2 separate regions of the Homo sapiens genome follow, and region 1 is linked to region 2. The links come from fine-mapping of genetic effects on gene expression. A gene starts in region 2. The other region holds a variant in brackets. All regions are shown on one strand. Distances are between the middles of the regions. Region 1 has its middle 10 kb from the start of KLHL12. Region 2 holds the start of RABIF (RAB interacting factor).

Region 1 (3,031 bases), 48 kb after region 2:
AACCATATCAGATGGCTTATAGAACACACACACAGACACACACACACACCCCAAATTTAAAAAAAATAGGAAAATATATATTTTTAAATTTTATTATTATTATACTTTAAGTTTTAGGGTACATGTGCACAATGTGCAGGTTTGTTACATATGTGTACATGTGCCATGTTGGTGTGCTGTACCCATTAACTCGTCATTTAGCATTAGGCATATCTCCTAATGCTATCCCTCCCCCCTCCCCCCATCCCACAACAGTCCCCGAAGTGTGATGTTCCCCTTCCTGTGTCCATGTGTTCTCATTGTTCAATTCCCACCTATGAGTGAGAACATGCGGTGTTTGATTTTTTGTCCTTGCGATAGTTTGCTGAGAATGATGGTTTCCAGTTTCATCCACGTCCCTACAAAGGACATGAACTCATCATTTTTTATGGCTGCATAGTATTCCATGGTGTATATGTGCCACATTTTCTTAATCCAGTCTATCATTGTTGGACATTTGGGTTGGTTCCAAGTCTTTGCTATTGTGAATAGTGCCGCAATGAACATACGTGTGCATGTGTCTTTATAGCAGCATGATTTATAATCCTTTGGGTATATACCTAGTAATGGGATGGCTGGGTCAAATGGTATTTCTAGTTCTAGATCCCTGAGGAATCGTCACACTGACTTCCACAATGGTTGAACTAGTTTACAGTCCCACCAACAGTGTAAAAGTGTTCCAATTTCTCCACATCCTCTCCAGCACCTGTTGTTTCCTGACTTTTTAATGATCGCCATTCTAACTGGTGTGAGATGGTATCTCATTGTGGTTTTGATTTGCATTTCTCTGATGGCCAGTGATGGTGAGCATTTTTTCATGTGTTTTTTGGCTGCATAAATGTCTTCTTTTGAGAAGTGTCTGTTCATATCCTTCGCCCACTTTTTGATGGGGTTGTTTGTTTTTTTCTTGTAAATTCATTTGAGTTCGTTGTAGATTCTGGATATTAGCCCTTTGTGAAAATATTTTTTTAAAAGAAAATGGATGGCTTATAGAGATAAGTTAGGCTCTCCCCTATTTTTTGATTTACTGATAGGAAAAGGGGTAAAATCAGATTCTTAGCTTTTATGCTTTGCCTTTCTTTAATCCAAGCTCATCAGTGTTTTTGTCATTTGTTCTGTAATGCCTAGCACATAACAGGTCCTCAAGTATTTAGAAAGTAAGTGAATGAACCAGAAGTATGCAATTAGAGAAAGAAGGTAATAGTTACTTGCTGCTAGTTAGCAGTTCTGACAAAAGCAAGGGAAGATATTGAAAACATGAGCAAAAGGAATTTTTAAGTGATCTG[A/T]GTCTTTAGAACACGAGCTTTAAATGAGAATGACCTGGATTCAGATACTGGCTCCAAACCTGTCCATCACCTTAGGAAAAATTATTAGTTTCCTGGAGGGATCTGAATTTGCAGCCACTAGTATTGAACTGGAAGGAAACCTAGAGATCACACCTGATGTAACTCCATCCATTTTCTAGATGAGGCAATAAGCAGATTCATAGCAGCTGAAATCCAGTGTGGTCCTCAAATCTGTTAGGTGCTAGGCACTATGGAATAAGTAAATGACAAACACTGATGAACTGTGATTAAAGAAAGGCCGAGGCGGGCAGATCACTTGAGGTCAGGACTTCAAGACGAGCCCTGGCCAACATGGTGAAACCCCATCTCTACTAAAAATACAAAAATTAGCTGGGCATGGTGGCATGTGCCTGTAATCCCAGCTACTTGGGAGGCTGAGGCAGGAGAATCGCTTGAACCCCAGAGGCGGAGGTTGCAGTGAGCCGAGATTGCTCCATGGCACTCCAGCCTGGGCAACAGAGTGAGATTCTGTCTCAATTAAAAAAGAAAAAAAAAAAAAAAAAAAAAAAAGGAGGCCAAGAATGAAAACTGAGAATCTGATTCTATCCCTTTCCTATTAGTGAATGAAGAACTAGGGGAAAGACTAACTTATTTTCTAACTACATTTACTATGTATTCCACAGAGTCAACGATATAAAATGACATACCAAAAGTACCAAATAGGTGCCCAATAATGTTATCTCTTAGATCATCTTTCCCTGATCTTGTCTAGTACGGAGAAATGAAGAAACACACATTAGGTTGTTTTTTATTTTATTTTATTTTTTTAAGAGATAGGCTCTTGCTCTGTCACCCAGACTGGAGTGCAGTGGTGTGATCATAGCTCACTGCAGCCTCCAACTCCTGGACTCAAGCAATCCTCCCCCACACACTAGGCCTTCTCAACAGCTGTGGATCTCATTTCCTTATCTAGAAAATGGAGTTGGATCAGATATGATCCCTAGGTTTCCTTCCATTTCTTATACTAGCGGCTGCAAACCGAGATGCCTGCAGAGGCCAGCAGATGACTGCACTGAGACCATCACCCTAGGTAGGGACCATGATGAACTGGAGTGCACCAGCCTTCTATAAAGGACATACATAGCTGCTTTTGAGTAGCAGTTGATTGCTCTCACTGTGCAAGGCCAAACATGTCTACGGATGTTTTTGATGTACAGGTCATCAGTTTGTGACTTCTGCCAACAGTTCCTTAAGCATTTTTTAAGACTTAAAATGGTTTTGGATTAAACATATAAAACACTCATTGCATAAAGGCAGTGAGTATCACATGATCTTAGGCAAAAGGATCACGTAGGTGCTCACCACCTAACTTAAAATAACAAACTTTAAAGATTCTTAGTCCTTCAGAGGTAAACATTATTCTAAATTAACATTCCCTCTTTAAAGTTTTTACCATGTTTGTATCCTTAAACCTATCATTAATTTAGCAATTTTCTTAATTTTACATACATGCAATTATGCAAATGTATTCTGTTGCTTCCCTCCCTTCCTGCCGATCTTATTTCTGAGGCTCAACCATGTTGTTGCTTGTCACTGTAATTCATTTTCACCAGCAGTGTTTCGTTATATGAATACACCAAGATATAGTTTTCCATTCAACAGTTTGGGACATTTGGCTTGTTTGCAACATTTTGCTACTACAAACA
Region 2 (2,500 bases):
TCTACTAGACATTACACTTCACCATCTGTTCAAGCACGTGAAATAATAAAATGATCTGCATATTTTTAGAAATAATTTTGAATGATAGGATGTGTCTATGGTTGAAATGACATTATATTTGCACTTCAACACAGTTTACCGAAATAAATTTTTTTTTCAACTTTCTCACTTGCGATGATGGTGGTAGGAAGGGTATTAAAATCCCTAAACTGAAGGGAAAAAAAAAGTTTTTCTTCGAAATTTACTTCCAGGACGTCAGGGATCTACTGCACTTGAAATATGATTCATCTGGAAAACCACAGGCTTCCAGTGCCTCGGTAAAGTGGGTAGGTTACCAGGGTTATTTTGCCGCGTCCCCAACACCAGTTGTTCCTGGGGATCCTCTGTGGAGCAGATAGGTGCCCGTCATAAATGAGACGGTGAATTCAGGACTGGCGGGTGAGGTCTAAAGTGGGAAAGGAACCCAGCAACACCCGCGGTGAGCGGCGGCCGAGAGGCACCTGCCGGGTCCTGCAAGCTGGCGGGAGCTCCGAGAGCCGGAATGGGGCGCCTCCCTTCCACGCGCCCGCGGAGCACCGGCCTTGGACGGCGGCGGGGCGCACGGCCCGCGCTCGAAGCCCCCCCGGGGGCAGAGGGCCGGGCTGGCTGGGCCGGGTGGCCCAGGGAAGGGTTCCCGCGGCAAAAGATGCCGGGGCGGGACCCGGTTCCCTCCCTAGCCTTCAGCGGCCCCAGGGGCGGAGCCTCGCCGAGCTGAGGCCCGAGGGGCGGGGCTTAAGGCCGCGCGAGGAGGGCGCGGTTGCCGGAAATTGAAGAGCCGGGGTTCAGATTCTGACTGCGGCGGCTCGTCGGGGGAGACTGTGGGTGTAAACGGCCTCCAACCTGCCTCCCTACCTGTCGGCGAGAGAAGAGAGCGGTCCCTGGCTGCAGCACCCGGGAGCCGCAACGCTGGCACAGCACCGCCTTCCGGTTTCGGCCCTCGGCTGACACTAACTCGCTCGGCTGCTCCGCTGGTTCCATCGCCGCTGCCGCCACAGGCTCCTCAGCCACGGCTGCGCAGACGCTGTCTCTGCTGGCTCGTTATTCACTGCGCTGGCGCGGCTTGGCAGAGGCGGGGCGGCGAGCGGACGGTCACTATGTCTCTGCGCAGGCGCCCGCTTCCCCGCTCTGGACTCTACTGCGCAAGCGCCTTCATTCATTGCCTAACCTAAGTGGCTAGGTGTCGGCAGGCTTTGTGACAGGGACACTTCTTGGCACCAGTGACACATCTCCATACCCACCTGGCCACTGGGCTTCACTTAAAACCTAGACAAATCATTAGGTTGACCTTACTGTTTAGTTTTCTGGGATCTGAATTTAGTCTCCTGAATAAATGGGGACATTATTGGGGGCAATATGAAGGGAATCTGGGTCGGACTTCCCATCAAGTTTTAGCCACATTAGCTTCTTCTATAGGAAACTACTTAGAGGGGCATGTATCTTTTCGGTATTGGAAAAAGATGCGTGGAAACTTTAATTGCTGGTCTCTTCTACTCATTGTGACCATTTACTATGCGGCAAAATGTGTCAAAGCGCCTTTAGAAACTTACTAAATCATCAGTTTCCTTACGGGGTCGGCACGCTTGTGCACAAAATGAGAAAGGTAAAGATCAGAAAGGTTGCAGCACAACTCTAAAGCCACTGCTCTTAATTAACTAGGATTGTCAGGAAAGCAAGATTATTTCAGACAGAACAGTATTATATATGAACAAGGGTGAGAACAAATTTAGGAATGGTTAGTAGACCACTGTGGCTGACCCACATTACACGTGGGGAGAAGTGGTAGTAGAGGTAGGTAAGGCAGAGTGGGCCCAGAGCTCCATGGCTTTAATGTCATGCTAAGGAATTTAACATTAATAACATGAACAATGGGAATCTGTGGAATTTTAGGCCAGAAATAACTGTTCGATATTTACTGTCTGCTGTATGTTAAGCACTGTAATGATCCTATCTGTGCTTCAGAAAGATAACCTATGAATAAATAGAGGGGCTAGATTGAAGAGAGGAAAAAGAGTAGAGGTAAGGTATCAGGTAGCTATTACCTCATCAGTCTAGCTCAGAAAGGCCCTGAAGCTAGCAGAGGGAACAAAGATATGGGAATGGACTTGAAACAATTAAAATTGTACAGAACTTAGAAACTAGCTGGATGTCTGTATTGTGATGGGGGTGACACAAAGCAACTGCTGGTTTTCCCAGGTTAGATAACTAAGTAGCTGGTTGCCAGTTATGGGAGCTTAAAAAAATAAGATGAACCACCAAATTAGGGGTATCTCTGTGTATGTATGTGAGCACATGAAAGTGTGTACGATTGTGAAGAGTGAAAAAGGAGCTGTTTTACGTGTTGATTTTTCTGTAGAACATACCATTGTGGCTTCAGTGTATGAACTATTTGTGAAGTTGGTCTGAAACTCATTAGTCAGCACTGAAGACAGCATAGGAGCCATCAGTCCTTCACCCTCCCCTG

Evidence for each region. PIP is the estimated chance that this variant, and not a neighbour inherited with it, causes the effect.
Region 1: its variant is the best candidate, but not a certain one, in a credible set for the expression of RABIF in sun-exposed skin (GTEx, PIP 0.55).

The regions. Positions count from the first base shown.
Region 1 is chr1:202,936,198-202,939,228 of GRCh38, forward strand. No RefSeq gene overlaps it. Among named protein-coding and RNA genes, the nearest start is that of KLHL12, 10 kb to the left of the region's middle. The variant A/T (reference allele first, on the strand shown) is at 1,326.
Region 2 is chr1:202,888,082-202,890,581 of GRCh38, forward strand. It overlaps RABIF (RAB interacting factor), which reads right to left and starts at 1,068. Exons shown (of 2, transcript NM_002871.5): 1 at 892-1,068. The coding sequence starts at 1,017. RefSeq lists a silencer at 474-763 and an enhancer at 834-1,103.